2 separate regions of the Homo sapiens genome follow, and region 1 is linked to region 2. The links come from fine-mapping of genetic effects on gene expression. A gene starts in region 2. The other region holds a variant in brackets. All regions are shown on one strand. Distances are from middle to middle.

The links. PIP is the estimated chance that this variant, and not a neighbour inherited with it, causes the effect. A credible set is the group of variants that fine-mapping cannot tell apart.
Region 1: its variant is the best candidate, but not a certain one, in a credible set for the expression of RBFOX3 in tibial nerve (GTEx, PIP 0.71).

Annotation. Positions count from the first base shown.
Region 1 is chr17:79,092,733-79,101,796 of GRCh38, forward strand. It overlaps RBFOX3 (RNA binding fox-1 homolog 3), which reads right to left. Exons shown (of 15, transcript NM_001350451.2): 9 at 8,852-8,912; 10 at 4,960-5,013; 11 at 4,560-4,692; 12 at 3,921-4,101; 13 at 2,781-2,842; 14 at 1,719-1,797. Among named protein-coding and RNA genes, the nearest start is that of ENGASE, 22 kb to the left of the region's middle. RefSeq lists an enhancer at 5,379-6,092. The variant A/G (reference allele first, on the strand shown) is at 4,920.
Region 2 is chr17:79,607,092-79,616,155 of GRCh38, forward strand. It overlaps RBFOX3 (RNA binding fox-1 homolog 3), which reads right to left and starts at 3,960. Exons shown (of 15, transcript NM_001350451.2): 1 at 3,735-3,960.

The DNA of each region.
Region 1 (9,064 bases), 510 kb before region 2:
GAGAAATAGCCAAGTCTCGATTTCTTTCCCCCTATATTCCTTGGGGAGAAAGGAGTTGGGTTGTCATGGCAACAGGAAGAGTAGGACCTGCCTCTGACATAGTGGTCTTGGGCCAGTGTGGGGTGCTCTGGGGTCATGGCCAACAGTGCTTCTAGGTCACAGCTTGAGTTATGTCTGGGTCACTTCTCTGGGCTCAGGCCTGGCCTCTCACTGTCCTTATGCAGAGGGGGGGTCCCAGCTTGAGCCCCACCTCCTCGCACCCCAGCAGGGTGGCACGGGGCATCTTCAGAGCACTGAGGGACCTCCTGGCGGGTTCCTGGGCCTTGGCTCAAGAGCCTGGGGCCACTGAAGCCAGCTACGCTGGGAGAGGCAAGCCTGCTGGGCATAGTGTTCAGAGCCTTGCTCTCTGGGGGGGTCTCTGGGTCCTCCTGGGCCCACCTGAGGCCCAGCCCTGTCCTACTGGGGAGAGCGGGTCCTGGATGCTCCAGCTCTCCCATGTCCTGGGCTGCCTCCAGTCAGGGAAGGCTCTGAAGGGGCCTCCCACCCTCCCACCACCCAGTTTTCCCAGAAAAGAACAACACAGCAAGTGCAAGAGAAGAAAAATTGGGGAAAAATAGAAAATCTTAAAAATACAAAGTGAAAACACAAGAGGGAACCCTCCGTGCGTTAATGAAAGCTTTTAGCTTGCAGCTGCACGGAGGGCCCAAGAGCCAGGGTATCACACCTCCATCCGGGTGGGGCCGCACCAGACCCGCGCCTGTGGCTGCCCACAGCCACCACAGGCTGCTGGGGGTGTCTGAGGCTCGTTAAAAATTGAAAAAAAAAAAAAAAATTGGAGGGAGTCATCAAAACCAAGAAAGATGGGAAAAATCCATATTGCCTCTGAACCTCCTCCCTCCTCACTCTCCCAAGATGTTTTCATCTTTGATGCTGGATGCCAAGCTAGCTAAAACCCGTGTTCACACCCCGGGGCTGGGGCCAGTGGGTACAGGAGGCAGGTGTCTGCTGGAAGCAGCTCTGGGTGCAGAGTGAGCTGGGCTGCACGTGTCAACAGCTGGCCACACACACACACACACACACACACACACACACACAGAGACACGCCACGCCGCGCACCTCCCCGCCCCGCCCCTTCCACCCCACAGCCTGAGGGAGGAGGCTGGGGCAGAGCAGGCACTGTTTCCCCAGGACGCCAGGAGCCCCCAGGAAGCCAGGAGCTAGAGCCTGGTGAGAAGCAACCGGTAACCCACACTCCCCTCTCGGATGCGATGCGAGGGGGCTGCAGCAGTGCGGGTGGGCCGTGGGTATGCGGTGTGGGCAGAAACAGCCCCGGGGCCTTGGGAGCCTCTGCTGGGAAGGAGAGGCGGCCCTGGTTTGGTTTCTGAGGTTTTCCTGGTGGAAATGGGAATGGAGGGGCCTCAACGGGACTTTATTATAGTGAGGGAGCTCAGGGAAACGGATCAGGCACATTGGGGTGCTTTCCAGAGGACCAGATGGTACGGTGGGCTGACCAGCCATTCAACCTGCTTCCCCGCAACTGAGAGGGCGTGAGGGGCCAGCCCTCCCCTCACCCTAACTCACATCCAGGCCGTGGTCCTTCCAAAGTCTCCGGGACCAAGGCATTGGTCAGAGGGCTCGGCCTCTCCCCCAAGGGCCTCACCACCCATGCCCAGCTGTTAGGACTGGCACCCAGGGCTGGGCGGGCCTGGGCTCCTTACCATGGTTCCAATGCTGTAGGTCGCCGCGGGCCCGATGGTGTGATGGTACGGGTCGGCAGCTGCGTAGACTCTGCCGTAACTAGGGAAGAGCGTGGGAGGGGGAGTGGGAGGAGGGTGGGGGAGGGGGGCAGGTGAGGGGCAGCAACGGCCTCCCACCTCCTCCCAGACACTACATGGGCACCCTGTACCGAGGTCCCATCTGCAAGGCACCCTCCCCTCCTGCAAGGCCTGCAAGGCCTACCCCTCCTTCTTGTTAAGAAGGAAGCTTCTGGAACACAACAGGCAACCCTCTCAATATGCCCACAGTGTGCTGACCCTGACGGGGTGGGGGGAGGGGGTGTGTTCCACTCAGTGCTACGTGGAGGGGGATGGTGTCCTCATGGAGCTCGTCTGCAGGGAAAACAAACTTCCACCCCAAAAAGAATGTGGTAAATACTGGGGAGGGTTTCAAGAGAAGAGAGAGGGTCAACGAGGAGGGACCAGGAACACTGCCCCCAAGAATGTGACACTTGTGTCCCTCACGACTTTCCCTTCAGCAGTTTGTCTGTGCAGGGAACTCTCAGCTCCTTAGAGAGCAGAGCTGGGCCACGGCACCCTGTACACCACACTTCAGGGAGATGGAGCCGGGGCTGCCAGGAGGGAGGGGGTACAAGCGGTCCCCAGACCAGAGTGGTGGAGCTCAGCTACCAACAGGCCAGATGTCTGAGGGGAAAGGCACTAGGCTAGGTTGCTCCAGGAGGAAGCACTCAAGCGTCTGCCTCCAAGACAGACAGCCACTGTGGGCACGGGGCTTGCGGGGGGCGGTGGGGGGACTGGGAATCAGAGATGCGGTCTCCACCTGGGGTTTCCACAGCCTCCCCATGGGGTAAGCAGGAAGTGACTGAAGTCAGGGGCTCACTGGCTCAAGGGCCACACTCAGACCTGCTCCCCTGTCCCGACCCTACTCCCGCCAGGCCTGGAAGAGTGGGTTACGCCTCCTGCCTGTCTGGGCCCAGCTCCCCAGGGATCCTTGTCCATCTTCTCCCCACCCTGCTCCAGAACAGTGCTGGCCCCCGGCCTCACCTGTCGCTGTAGGCTGCCGCCGCTGCAGCGGGCTGAGCGTATCTGTAGGCTGCGTAGCCTCCCTGCAGGGTAAGTGGGAGGAGAGAGAGCAGAGGGACTTAGTGGGGCTCCCCAGGGAAAGGCTGAGTGGGGAGAGGAGACAGACCCTGTGCGGGTGGGGCCCTGGGAGGGACTACAGACCTTCCCAGCCTCCCAGCCTCGGCTGGGTAAGGATTAGGTGGTACCTGGCCTGGGCACCTAGTTCTGGTCTAACACAGGACCGAGGACTGCAGATGGCTAGGTGGCACAGTTCAGGGCGAGGCAGGTCTGCCTGTCCACTCCATTCATTCACTCATTCATTCACACATCCATCTGTGCACTCCACACACATTAGCGGGTACCCATGACTCATCTGGCTGGGTGCTAGGCCTTGGCAAGGAAGAGGTGCTCACAGACCTGCCACCAGGCCACTGAGGCCTGACTTGGATGCTGAGGGGCTGGGAGAACCCACAGTGACTCTGGATAGTGTCCTGGACACCAGGAAGGGTCAAGGGTAAAGGGCACAAGAGGACGTGAGCTCAGATGATGTCCTGGCCTCAAATGGGCAGGTAACTGAATTGTAGGCAGCTGCCCAGGACTGAAGGGTGGCTGGGTACATGGGGTGTGGCCGTCAGTGAGTCTGAGACAGAGGAAGCAGCACATGTGGCCCCATGAAGGGGGAGAAAGGCCACCGGACCCCATCAAGGGGGGTAGGCCCTGGAGCACAGGCACCCAGGGGCCCTGCCTCCTGGCCCCTCTTGCAGCCCGTGCTGTGGGTGCCTTAGGGGCTCACTCACTGACCGCAGCGTGGTTAGGGACGTGGCAGAGTCCCACTGCCCCCATTATATGAGGCCTTGCCCACAGGAAGATGGTTTCAGCTCACAGGGCTGCTGGGCGGCCCATTAACTGCTCCCTTGATGGGTACCAACAACCAAACTGTGCCATGCTGGGATTCTCAGGGATGCCATACTCTGGGCAGACGTGGCACCCTCGCCCTCCTGGCTTCAAGGGTGGGATGGGATGGGATGGGAGGAGCGGGCAGTGAGAGAGGAGACGCCGACTTCTCATTGAGACCCACAGAACGCCTGATCCCACCCTCCCTCCCGGCGGGGCTACACTTACATAAATCTCAGCACCATAAAATCCATCCTGATACACGACCCTGGAAGCAAACGGACAAGAAAGTGGTGGGAACGCTGGAGAGGTGGGGTAGGCCGGCTCCGGTGTCTGCTGAGGAGGGAGGGGGCACGGTGCCAGCCCCGCCCATGGGACTGGCATTTTAACAAGCGTTTGCTCCAGTGCCCTGTTTTGGTATAACAATAGAGTAACACCCTTGCTGATCAGCAACTTTCTCCCACAAACCCCGGGGCCCATAGCCCACCCGACCCCAGGCAGCTGTGCCCCCCACCCCTTTAGTGATGGAGGGCACCAGACCCCAGGGAATGGGAGCAGAGAGGGCTCAGAGAAGCCCCTCGCTGACCTCAAGAGTGGACAACGGCCCCATTAAAGCATCCAGACAAGGTTCTGGGGCTCTGAATGTCCCCCTAAATGCCAGTGACCTCCGCGATGCCCGCCGTGGTGGGGATAGGGGTGAAGATAATGGAGGCAGCTGCAGGGCTGAGTTCTGGGGCTCCCACGATCCTCCCCCCCCCCAGGTCTGGAAAGGCTGCCTAGCCCCTCGCACTGCGCAGGGCCTCCCCATTTCCCTCCTCCCCGCCGTCCTACCCCCTCCTCCACGCCTCCCCCGGCCCAGGTACTCACGCTCCGTAAGTCGGGATGGGGGGTGGGGGTGGCGCAGCCCGAAATGTATTATACACGGCCCGGCCCCGGCCCCGAAGATGTGCGCCCCGGTAGGCAACGGCTGTGCCGGTGGTGGGGTAGGGGAACCCCGTCACTGCAGGAAACGGGGCCCGAGACACGTGTGAGAGGCACAAGGGGACCCACCTGGCACCCCCTCCCCGTACACCTAGCCCCCCCGCGCACCTAGCCCCCAACCCCTCCCCAAGCCCCGCCCCCGGAGCGCTACTCAGTCAACACGGCGACGGGAGGGCGGGGACGGCCCACCTGGCCCCGCCCCTCATGCCCCGCCCCCAGAGCCCCCGGAGCCCCACGGGGCCAAGT[A/G]GCTGGTCTCATCCCATCCCCGCCCCGCCCCAGCTTTTACCTGCATAGAATTCAGGCCCGTAGACTGCGCCGACCACTGGATTTAGCTTCCAGCCTAAAACAAAGGCACAGAGACCTAGTCACTGCCTTCCCCGACCCTTTTCCCACCAAAACGTATGCCTGGGAACCCCAGCGACACCGGTGGAGCCCTTGGGAACATTCCCAGGGCGCCTCCCCGCGCCGGGCCCCCCTTTCCCACACTGCCCGGACAAGTGCTGAGTTCAAAACACCAGGGTCTACTCCTTCCTGACTCTTCTGCCTGGGGGTCTGCTAGGATTCTTTCCCAATTGTGATCCTCCTCAGCCTGCCCCTGAGCAACCCTCACCCCTGGGCGTCATCCCCCGAAGCCTGGGGTACCCACCTCCCAGAAGAGAACTGGAGAGGGAAAGTGGAACTTGTTATCTACCCCCCTGAGCACAGCTGGGATGAGGGTTTCTGGAGTCAGACTCAGCACAGCCCCACCATCCGAGCTCCAGGTGGCCAGAGGCTGCAGGAAAGGCGCTTGGACTCTGCCCATAAGCTCTCCCCACTGCCTGCCAAAGTCCCCGTCCTGCTCCCTCTTCCCCGTGCTGAGTCCTGCTCTCACTTTCCTCCCGTCCTCATCTTCCCCCAGAGCGGCTGTCCGGGAGGGTGGCCTGGGAGCAGGTCGAGGAGGAAAGGGCATTTGGACTGGGAATGATAATAAGGATGGGCTGGTTTTCCTCAACACTGTGTGTGAGCCACACAGACTGTTCGAAACTCACGGGGTCCTCCCTGCCCAGTGAGCCACCACACCCTCCCCATTTTGCAGATGAAGAAACAGCCCTGGAGAGGCACAGCAACCTCCCGTCAGCAGCTGGGGAGTGGCAGAGCCAGGGATCCCAGCCTGTAATCGGCATCCCAGCCTCTCCCTTCCTGCAGGTGGGCCAGTCTTCCTCTCCCCGGGGGAACCCAGGAGCAGAGCAAAGACCTGCTCCACCTGGAGGCCTCTGCGGGGGACACCAGCTGCCTTGCAGTGGGCTCCGGCTCCAGGCATTCCGACAGGTTGGGCAGGAGGGCTTCTTGACGAGGCCCAGCCCCTTACCCCTCCTCAGTGTACCCAGGTCTTATCTCTACAGCATGCCCCGTGGGCCCGGCTCCTTGTCCCTTTGCACTGGGTGGGGAGGAACAGCAGGGACGAGAGCCCACTGGCCAGCTGGGGAGATACATCTGGAGAGGGTGGCAGTGGGCCCAGGCCATGTGTGAACCCCTGACCCAGATTCTAACAACCCCACTGCAGGGCAGGCAGACTGGAGGCAGTGAGGACGGAGGGTCGGGGTATGTTCCTCCCTCTGGCCAAGTCTTCACCCCACCCCGCATCCCCGGCCCACCATCACACAACCTTGTGTCTGGACGCCATTGCTGGGACTTTGGAATCTTCCAAAAAGATAAATCCCAGGTTAGGAAGGAAGAAACTTTTTTTGGGGGTAGGGGGGCACAGTTTCTTGCTCTGTTGCCCAGGCTGGAGTGCAGTGGACGATCACGGCTCACTGCAGCCTCGACCTCCTGGGCTCAAGCGATCCTCCTACTTCAGCCTCCCGAGTAGCTTGGGCCACAGGTGCCTGCCACTACACCCACAGCTAATTTTAAAAACTATCTGTAGAGACAGGGTCTCCCTGTGTTGCTCAGGCTGGTCTTGAAGTCCTGGGCTCAAGGGATCCTGCCACCTTAGCCTCCCAAAGTGCTGGGATTACAGGCATGAGCCACTGCATCAGGCTGAAAGAAATGTTTTGTTTTCTGGGAAGACCTCCAGTCCGAAGAACTGACTCTTCTTACTAGAAGGCCCATGATGGAGCAGAGTCCTGGAGACCCTGACCCCAAGCCCAGACTCCCCGGGGCTCCATCCAGTGACTCTTCTGGGTCCACTCTGGGCGAGTGAGACTTGGAGGCTGCATGTGTGCTTCAGATGGCCCTGGGCACCTTCACCTGTCAATTCTGGCTTCCTGGATGCCTCCACCGGTGATTCTGGCTTCCTGGGTGCCCTCCCCTGTCAATTCTGCCTCTCTGGGAGCCTCCACCTGTCTCTGCTGCCTCCATTTCACTGTCTGGAACCCCAGATGGCAGAGACAGCCTGAGACTGCCTGGCTGGCCTGTTTCTACCGTAAATAGTTAACACCTGGGCAAACCTGGTGGGTTTGTTTTCTACAATGGAAACCTCCACCCCCAACTGATGAATTCCAGAGTGTTGGGTAGTGTTGAAGCCAAGTCACGCAGCACTCGCCACCAGAGCCCATGGGTTGGCTTCGGTGCCAACCTGCAGAGAACCCAGGGCCGTCCCACTGCAGCCCTCTGTGCCCAGGCTGATGAAGAGATTGAGATGAAACGGCTCTTGCTGCAAAGGTGGGCAAAGGTTCCCACCTCCCTCCATTCCCTGATGTTTCACTGGTGTAGGTTCCGTGCCCCTCATGAGCCGCATAGCCCGAGGCCATTCAGAGATGGGTCTGTTCTGATTTCCATGCTCCCCTGAATTCTCACTTCTGCCCAGACAGCGGTGGGTGTGGCCCTTGGGTGCAGAGTGGGCAGCTGGTTCCAGAGATTTTGCAGCCCCGCTGGTTGATCACCTGTACCCTATAAAAATGTCTACCGCTTTTACTTCCTGTGCCAAGTGCCAGATCACAGAAGAGTCACACCCAGGACGCACTCGGGATGCTTGCAAAGTGGGAACACTCCCAAATTTTTAAAAAGAATTTGAGATGTGTAAGTCCTCAGAAAAGCAGGATATGAGGCCATGAGAATCAAGTCTAACTTGGGCCAGGCCAGAGGCCCGGCCCCACCCCAGCATCGGACACCAGGAGAAGAGCTCGGGGGAGAGGTGGCGGATCGGGCGGTCCTGTCCAGGCTTCCATGCTGGTTGTCACCTGACTCCACGTATGGCCGATCACATGGGGGGCCATGAGAGGCTGGGGGTGACACCGTCTGAAAGTCCACGGCAACAGGGAGATCCATCCCGTCTAGGGGCAGCGCTGAGGCTTCTAAGGGGTCCGAGTGGGAAGCTGCTCCCTGGCAGGAATGAGCGGAGGCCCCCAACGTACGCCTGCTCTGCTCAAAGCAGGCCCCTTGCCGGATGGAGTTAAGACTCGCAGTGGCCACCAGTGGTCCCCCTGCTTCTCCAGAGCCAGCACTTAGCGTCGGCAGATCCATCTCCAAGGAAGACCGGCCACCTCCGTTTGCAGTGGGGTGCACACACACAAGATTCCTCAGTCTCCCCTTGCTGTGGACAGCAGGGCTCAGCCTGGGGCCTCAGGGCCACCCATGTCAAAAAGCCCCAGGAAGGCAGTTACTGTAATCACATCCTCCGAAATCTGAGCACCTCCCCCCGGGCCCTTCCTCATGGTGCTTAAAGGTGTCATTTGTCATCGAACAGCTCTGGGGGATGGTGTCACTATTCCTGTTTTGCAGATGAAGAGACTGGAACTCAGAGAGGTCTAGAAGCTCATCCAAGGCCCCCCGTGCCCTCACTGCCCTCCCTGAGCCTGCTTACACTGGGAATCGGTGCAGCAGGTCTCAGCACAGAAGCCTTCAAACTCTGGCCCTGGGGGAAAGTCAGTCCTAATCCAGGAAGGCACAGCTATCCCCCTGGATCAGAAGCCTGCACGTGTGGCCTCTGGGGGCCAGGCACGCCTGGGAAAGTGAGACTCCAGCTATGGCTGACTGTATGGGGCCATGAGAGGGGTGAGTGGCCCCCAGCTCTCCTCCCGCCTCTTCTGCCCCACCCGCTTCTGACCGGGAGCAGAGCGGCAGCCCCAGGGCTGGGACACTGGGGACGGAGGCTGCCTAGGATCCAGGAAGGTCAGCCTGCAGCAGCCTCAGCTCCCCCAGGGCCTCTGTCCCAGCCAGTGACCCCAGCAGCCTTGTGGGGGGACCCAGCCCCTTACCGTTGGTGTAGGGGTTCCCCGTCTTCTTGTTGGTCATCACTCGGGCCGTGGCATTATTGACCTGTTCAAAGAGGGAAGGAGAGAGAGGAAGAGGGAGGATTAGCCTCCTGGAAGACCCACTGGCCACTCCTCCCCGCCCTGCTCCGTTAGCCCCCGGCACCCCCCGCCCCAGCCTCCTCTCTCCACCATGCTGCCTGCCCTCCGGGAGCCTTG
Region 2 (9,064 bases):
CAAAGGGTGGAGGTACAAACGGGATGTGTTTATAAAGCCGGTGCCTTGTGCCAGGAGCAGGGGCCTGTGGCAGGCAGGGATTTAGGGAATGGTAGGTTCCCTACCAACCAACAAACGGGTCTCTGTTGAAGGGGGAGAAAGTTTCAAGATGGCTTCTTCCCCTTCACTTGTTTAAAAATAAAAAATTCCTCACCAAATGTCAGCTGCGTGTCAGGTTCCATTTGTCTTTATAACAGAGTATCAAGCAGGAGCGTGGAAATAAATAAACACAGGGAGACAACCGACCAAAACTTGCAGGCTCTGGGCTGGGCTGGGCTAGAGGAGGGAAGCCCCACCCTGCAAGGGCTGAAAAATAATATTGCAGTTTCGCGTTCAGCACTGTGGCTCTGGCCCACTGACATGTTTTCCTCTCTTTACTGCCCCCCACCCCCTACCACCACCACTCTGGCGCTTCTGGGAGGGATAGGAGCGTGACTTATGCATTCCTTCCTTCCGAATTGCACAGGCATCATGGGTCAGAACACCATCTGCGTATATGGGGGAGGGGGCAGATAAACCAAGCAGGGCCCCTGCCCTCAGCAGCAAGGCACCTCCAACTGCCACACATCGGTATGAAGGCGCCTTAGGCCAGGGCTGAATGTGGCTGGGAGAGAGGTGTCAAAGAAGGCTGCAGGGGAGAGGCAACAGGGCTGAACCAGCCAGGGAAGATGGCATTTTCTCTGGCCACTACAGTGTCTAGTTCATCCCTAGACACCAAAGAGCCCGATAATCTCTCCATTTCACCGATGCGCCATCAGCCACGCTCCAAGTTGAGTAAGTGACAGGCGCAGGACAGAAGGCCCACTCTGGAATGGTACCCAGGAGGCCTCCTTGCTGTAATTACCTCTTCGCAGGCCCTGGGCTTTTCTGGCTCTTGAATGAGCCTCGGGAGCCCTCCCCATGTCCTCAGCAGCCTGAGGGCGGCCGCCCGCAGCGCCTCCAGCGGCCCTGGGACCGTGTCAGAGGAGGGAGGGCGAGGAGGGCAGGCTGTGGAGGCCCCGGCCCTGTCCTTGGTGCTGGCGCCCGCTGAGTGCCTGCTGAGCCACTCAGAGGCAGGGGCCGCCCATGCCGCCACCTTCCCTCGACATCCGCCTCTGGTCCCTGCGGAAGGGCAGTGAATACTCCCAGCCCCGCTGTGGCTCCCAACCGAGGTCACTGGGTGCGGAGCATTTGCCGCAAAGGCCCATCCGAGTAAGGGGCGGAGCCTAGGGACTTCCCTGGACTCCTGGCTCCTCCTGGCACCCAGAGGCGACCCGAGGTCCCCGGGGTGGGCACGGGTCTCTCTAGGCCCCAGGCCCCTGAGGAAGGTGGATCAAAGCAATCACCCAGGTTCCCTTTTTTCTTTGGGGGGAGGAGGGTGGATAGCTGCTAGAAATGGACAACTCACCCCAGAAAACCCCGGCCGTGCAAGCGCAAACAGCCCAGCACCAGTGGCAACCCCTGCCGCACGCACGCAGCCACCTCGCCAGGCCCAGGCTGTCTCGGCTTGGGTGCGTCCCTTCAACCGTGCTTCTTGCTCCTTAACCCCTTCAGTGGTCCCCACGTCACCCGCTCTGTCTCCCTCCTGGGGACAGCCTTGCCCTCCCAGAAGCTGTCAGCCAGGAAATGAAGGGTTAAGCGTTGCTTCCAGGAGTGTGCGGTGAGCGGTGAGCGAGGCGCCCACGCAGGAAGGCCTCCAGTCCTGGGGGAGGGGCGGGGGGGCCAGCCTCGGTCCTCGGCCAAAGGGAGCTCCTCGCCCGCAGGAGGCGGAGAAGGAAGGCGCGCCGGGATGGTTCTAAGAAGGCTCCCCTCCTCCGCCCCCGCCATGCCGCCCCCACGCCCCCACCCCGCCGGCGCTCAGTGACCTGGGGCGCCCCTGCAAGAGGCCCATACCCGGCTTTCATCAGGCAGCGCCTTCTCGACAACTTTTCTCCCTCTCTCCCCTCACAATTTTTGCTCACCTGGAGGGTCGGTTTTTAATTAGTGTAATATCCCCGTGAACAACGCAGCCTAATTAAGACATCCGTCCCGAATCCGCGATGCACACTTAATGAGCAGGTTCTGCCGCAATGTTTATACTTTTTTTTTCCATTATGTTTTGCAGACCAGTAAAACCGAAGCCGGCTTCCGGCTGAAAGACCTCATTACGGGCGACCCCACTCCATTAGCCTCCTACCTGCTCCACGCTAAGTGCCCGGGGCGCCCGGGTGCATGCCCAAGGCGTCCCCGAGTCCAACCTGCGTTTGGAGCAGGAAATTAGCAACCTGCGCGCCCGAGAAGCGACTTCACCACCAGCTGGGGCAGGAAGGGGGACTTAAACCCAGGGATGGATCCCTTGGGTCTCTGTCCTTAGCCTCCACCGTGGGGTGTCTCGCGCGTCGGGACTAGCGGCTCCGCGGGACTCCTTTTTAAAAGTGATCATTAAATAAATCAGGTACCTCGCCAAAGCTGGAACGGAAAGGGGAGGGGGAGGCAGCTCTGTTGTCCAGGAGTTTCTCCCCACCTCGCTGGGCCCCCGCCCCCACCAGTGGACTCCGGGAACATCCCACCCCCACCCTACGTGATACCAGGGATCCCAGGGCCGCTTGGGGACCCGACAGGTTCCCAATGCCCCTCCACGCGGGGCGCCGCGTCTCGGTCCCCGCACCGACACTGCAGGGCTGCGCGCCAGGGGAGGCTCCGCGTCCCGGGGAGGGAGGCTGCGACCCCCAGCACCAAAATGACCACTGGCCTCGCGCCACCCCGAGACGCCACAGAAGACCACCTTCCCGAGCGTGCGAGCCCAACACGCCCCGGGCGAGCCCCACCACCGCCCGGGGCCACCAGGGCAGAAAGTTTGGGCCAGGGGCGTGCCCGGCTTTCCCAGCCCGGCCGCGCTGCTCGAGGCCCTGGGGGTGGCCGAGGCTTCAGAGAGGCAGCCTCTGCTCCCGTTCCAGCCTTCCTATCGTGCTTGGGGACTCGGCCCGGAGCGCCCCCAGCCCGCCCCCTGTAGGGCCCTGCGCGCCGCTCGCCCCTCGCTGCTCGGCCCCCGCGCACACCGCGGTGCTGCGGGCCCCGCTCCTATTTGGGGAGCTGTGGCAGCCCCTTCCTCCCCACAACTCCTTTGGGTCATCAACCTCTCAGCGACCCTCCTTTCAGAGGACCCCGGCAGGGCTCTCTCCGGGCCTGGGTGCCGCGACAGACGCACGTTGCACCACCGCCGGGTCGCCAGCCTCTCTCCCACCCGCGCGGGCTCCGGCTGCCTGCTCGGACGCGCCCCGCGGGGCCGGGATCTCCGCGCGCCTCTGCCTCCCCCCGCCGGGGAGTTCCCCGCGCCGGGCATTGTGCCGCCGCCGCCGCCGCCACAGCCACCACCACCGCCACCGCCACCGCCACTGCCACCGCCACGCAGCGCGCGGGACTCCCTGGCGTCTCCATGGAGCCCGACCCCCGGGCCTTCCCATTCACAAAATCGCCCCTCTGGCCCACGGCCGGACAGAGCGTCCAGACCCCAGCCCCGGAGGGACCCAGGGACCCCGACCCCGCGCAGGGACCCCTGACCCCGAGGGCGCCACCCCACCCCACGCGCCCTCGGGTCAGCCCCGGCCGCGCTCAGCAGCCCGCCTCCCACTGCGGGGTCCCATGCGCCCCTCCGCGGCCATGTCCCCCTCCCCCAGCTCAGCCCGATGGGAATGACCGCCGCAGAGCGAGGCGGGCGACGAGGCCAGGCTACTCACGGGCTCAGCGCTCCCCGCGGCAGGTGACTGGGGGCCGGCGGCCATGCCCCGGCTGCATCCCGGCCGCCGAGCGGGCAGCGGCGTCCTGGGGCCGCACAGGCACCGGCGAGCCAGCGGCAAGGGGCGCGCGAGGCCGGGCTCGGGCGGCAGCTGTGGCAGCTGCTTCTCCTCCGACCACGCGAGCTGCTGGGGCCCGGCTGGGGCCGCTGTCCGAGGAGGTTCTGCTGGCTTCGGAGCAGCCCCGCGCTCGCTCTTCCCTCGCCTCCTCTCTCTCTCTCTCTCCTCCCTCCTCTCTCCGCCCTCCTTCTCTCTCTCTCTCTCTCTCTCTCTCTCTCTCTCTCTCTCTCTCCGCCCTCCTTCTCTCTCTCTCTCTCTCTCTCTCTCTCTCGTTCCTCTGGCTCGTTCGGCTGGAGCGAGGCGGCAGCAGGAGCACGCGGCGGCGGCGCGGGCGGCGGTGGCAGCTCGAGCGGAGCGCGCAGCGCGCGGCATGGGAGGGGGCTCTGGCTGTCGCGCGGCCGGGGAGGGCGGCGGAGCGGGGAGAGCCATGACCGGGTGGGCTTCGGCGGTCAGCACCCTGCAGCCTTCAGCGCCAACTCCTCGGGGCAGGGGCACAGAAGAGGTGGGGTACACACGGAAGATCCCAGAACCCAGTGCTGCCCTGGTCCCTTCAAGGGCAGCCCCAAGCCCGCTGCCCCTCCCCACCTCCAAGCTATCTTGGGGGCGGATCAACCCAGGTGACCCTTAACAGGACCCCTGCCCTTGTGCCTCGCTGTCCCTGGGGGCCATTTTTCTTTGCCAGGCCCAGGGATCCCCAGCAATGGGACGTGGTCACCAAGCATCAGGGACGAATGCCACCCCACCCCGCATGCCATGCCATGCCTTTGAGTTGCCCACATACCCCAAACCCCCTCACTAGGCCCAGGTGCCCTGACTTCCTGGAGGACCACTGGAAAGGAAGGGATCGGGCCCACTCCGTGCTGTTAGTCCAGATTGGCCAACCCAACCCATTTAAACATTTCCACCTGTGCCTGGCTGGAGAGGAAGGACTGTGGGAGGTCAGCTTAGGATTTCCCTAAAATCAAAAGATCAGGTAGCTCCTGTCCCCAGTCCCAGCCTCCCCCAGCATCTAGAGTAAGGGGCCTGGTGTGAGTTCTGGGAGGGTCTCTATCCTTGGTGCAGAGGGAGCAGGAGAGCAGAGGCTGAGGACACAGTGGAGTGGGGACCCTCTGGAAAGGCAGGAGAGATCTATTGCTGGGGTCAGCCCACCACTGGCACACAACACCAGAAGTGGGCAAGAAGGTCTGGACGGTCCCAAACAGGTTTAGGCAGGAGGCTGAGTAATCATTTCCAAAACAAAAGACATTCTGGTGCAGCAACCAGGCTGGAGAAACGAGCCTGCACCATCGAAGGACATTTCCAAATTACACACAAACAGATCCAAACCCGTCCCCATGTCACTTTTGCTCCTGAAGGCTGCTCCTGGAACAATTAGCCTCCTCCTCGCACCTGACTGTCCTGCTTTTCTGTGTGAGGTGAAAAGCACATCATGGAATCTGGGGTTTGGTAGGGGCCTGGAAGACCCAGAGGCCAGGAAGAGGGGAGTATGGATTTGGAGCTTCTCGGTAGTAGGGGCTCTGGGCTGCTGGCTGCCCCCCCTGCAGGGCAGCAGAGACGGTGGCCAAGACAGTGGCCGCTGCCCACTTATGAGCGTCATGCTTTTAATTTCTGGCCCTCCAGCCCGTCTGGGTCATTGATCTGTCTTGGCCGGTGGGAATCGTGTTATACAATTCCAAGCATACAGCTAAACAGCCCCACAGCTAACCACCAGATAAATGCCGTGTCTACGAGCAAGGCAGCCGCCTGGTTGACTGAACTTTCCCCTGCCACCGGATTTGAAATGGCGCATTCCAGCTCTAAAGCCCTAATTGGGCCTCTTGGTTCTCTGCTGTCAGATGGTCCAGGCTTTCGTGGCCTCCAACTCCCGGCTGGGCCCAGCCACTGCCTGGCAGGCACCTGTCTCCCTGCAGGCAGGGCTCTTGCCTCGCTGTGCCGGCAGTGCCCCCTGTCGGTCCCGCTTGTCCCTTGCCCACATTTCTTCTCCCTGGGGAGCCTTTTCCTCTCTGGTCCAGACCCTACTGCCCTTTGGAGCCTCCTCGCAGAAACCTCTCGAAGAGTGGGATTCGAGCCCATCTCCGTCTCCCTTCAGCTCCCCATGCGAGTTCTGCATGTGCCTGTGAAGTGGGGACACATTGACCTGGCAGAGCTGTGTGCCCGAGTGGAAGAGGGGTCCCTGCAAAGCATAGGGCCCGGTAAATCATTCCTTGGGGACGTTCTGGAAGAGCTCTCTGAAGACAGCACCAAATCTTGTTCCAAGTTCCACCAGTCCCAGCCCAGGACTCAGGACACGGTGGGCCTGCTCAGACGCCCGGGTGGTAAACTGAAATTGGCCTCTGTGGTTGGGACTGGCCACAGGGCCTGCGCGTGAGGACACCCCTTGGGAACAGGCCCCAGCCAGGCCGGCCTCATTACCAGCCCCAGAGAGTTTGCCCTTCGTGCTCAGCTGTCGTAGACAGGGATCTGGCCGGAAGAGAGTAAGTGTCAGGGCCAGCAGGACATACCAGCACTAACCGGGAGATTTTCCATTTGGGGACGTCATCTAAGAGAATTTTTAAAACCTCTGATTTGGAAACTTTAATTTTTAAAAAGTGAGCACATGGGGAGGACTGGGGAGTCCTTGGTAATAATCATTAGGAGAGAAACACAGGGAGACTGGGCTTGGGGCCAACAGGACGACTGAAGGCACAGAGCTAATTTCGTGCCCTCTGAAAAATCCCACTAAAACTACAAAGAGAAAATTTTAAAAAGGGGCTGGGCATGGTGGCTCAAGCCTGTAATCCCAGCACTTTGGGAGGCTGAGGTGGGTGGATCACCTGAGGTCAGGAGTTCGAGACCAGCCTGGCCAACATGGTGAAACGCCGTCTCTACTAAAAATAGCAAAACTAGCCAGGTGTGGTTGTGGGTGCCTGTAATCCCAATTACTTGGGAGGCTGAGGCAGGAGAATCACTTGAATCCGGGAGGTGGAGGTTGCAGAGAGCCGAGATCGCGCCACTGTACTACTCCAGCCTGGACAACAAGAGTGAGACTTCCATCTCAAATAAGAATAACTTTAAAAAGGCATAAACCCCAACGACCTGGAGAATAGGAGAAAAGAGAACAGTAGCCGGCTGTGGGCAGCGGGGAGGCACAGGAGAAGTGGCGGCCCGCCCTCACGGAGCTGAGTCTCGGCCCAGAGGCAGGGAAGGCTGACAATGGAATCCCCCGAAGGCTCAGAAGGCGTGGGGCCCAAGACCCGGGGAAGCCTGGAGATCCTCGGATAGCCCCTCTGGAGGTTTATTCCCTGAGGACACTGAAGCAGCCTCTGTGGCCTGGGGGCCGCCAGACACTGCGGACAGAGGGGCGTCCTGCACGGAGAGCCCCCCTTTTCCCTCACGGCACCTGTCAGCATCCTGACCTCCACCCTCCTGGCAGGAGGCCGGAAGAATCTCCTCTGGGGAATCTCACCAGCACCCAGAGGGGAAACCTGAAGATAGAGCTTTGCTGCTTCCAAGCACAGGCCCCACTCCCTGCTCGGAGCTGCCAACCAGCTTTGCAGCCCCCCTAAGGTGAGTAAAAAGCCAAGGATGACCAGACACCTGCGGAAAGCCTTCATGAGAAGGAGCCGCCAAAACACGCAACAGAGCGGGGCCGACTTCGAGGAAACAGATATTAGGCAGGGAGGAGAAAACATCAGAAATAGCAGTATTTAATATCCTCCCAGAGATCAGAGGAGATACCGCATCCATGAACCAAGAGCAGGGTGCTATTTTAAGGAGAACATTTAGAGAACAAAAAAGCTGGGAAGTTAAAAGCATGAGAGCAGAAACAAAACATCTCAACAGACAGGCTGGAAGAGAAAAGTAAGGGAATGCCCCAGAAGGCAAAGCAAAAAGGCAAAGAGGAGAAAAAGAAGAAAGAGGGGATGAAAAAAAACTAGATGATCAATTCACGAGGCTCAACACAAAAGGAATTCTAACCCCGACCCCCATAGGGCCCCCAGAGAGAAGGAGGAGGAGGAGAAGAAAGGAAATCATCAATTACTTAAGAATTTTTTTCCAGAAATAAGTTTCCAAATTGTCCACAAAATCGATGGAAATGATTCATATCAAGGCACATTATCTTGAAAAGTAAATCACTGAAGAAAAAAAAAAAATGTTTCCCCAAGTTTCCAGGTGCCATAAAAAAGAGCAGGAACGAGAATAGCTCCAGAATTCTCAACACAAAGAGGGCAGCTAACCAATCACAAAGCGTGCCTTCAAAAGCTGATGGCAAGTGATTTCTGGCCTGGAATCCCTTACTTCACAAAATTAACAATCAAACGTGAGATTAAAACAAAGACATTTGCACATGCGAGATCTCGACAAAATTATTTCCCACACACCATCTCTCAGCTACCAGAGGACGTGCTCTAACAAAACAAGGGTGTAAAGCATGAAAGAGGGCAATGAGGGATGGAAGAAACAGAGGATCTAGTAAGCGGGCAGGGATCCACATAGTGGGAGAGGAGGGAGGGCAGGAGGGCAGCTGTGTACCGGGCAAGAGGTTGCCAGTCCAGATGAGAGCAGGGTGGTGGCATGTCCAGCTGCCTAGGGCTCAGACATGTAGAGGGCTGTCACTACCAAGATGCCTCCTGCCATTGTACCACCCTTTCAGTGCCAGGTGAGCCTGGCCCCTGCTCCCCTCTGTGCCCGGCCGGCTCGGGCCGTGTTGCAGTGGAGTGCCTGTTTTCCTTTCCACGCACTGCCACCTGTGTAAGCTGAAGACCCTCATTTCGCCCCATGGAAGCATTTACTTTGATCTACTCTTAGCATCAGGAGGTGGCCACAGGGAACAAAGAAACAGAAAACACACATCAGCCCACCAACCTGCAAGAAGCCCCAGCCAAGGAGGCCCTTGGTTCCCCAGGACCCCTCATGCCTTGCCCAAGAACTCCCTAAAAGAGGCTCTTGTAAAGCGTGGGGCAGCTGCGGTTCCAGAGTTTCACATTGTCTTCTCCCAGGCTCCTCCGTCTAAGGGTAGCAGACCCAAATCATCACAGACAGAAAGGACATCATGGCCCCACTTTCATATTCAGCACTGGACACATCCACAGATAGAAAGGAGGTGAAGATGCAACTGTAGAAGGATCGAGGAAAGCAAGAGATCAGGGGCCTGCTTTTTCCTTGCTGGTCTTTGACGTTCTTGTGAGGTCCACAGATGGCCAGCACCGACGGCCCGTTGGAGAGCTGATGTC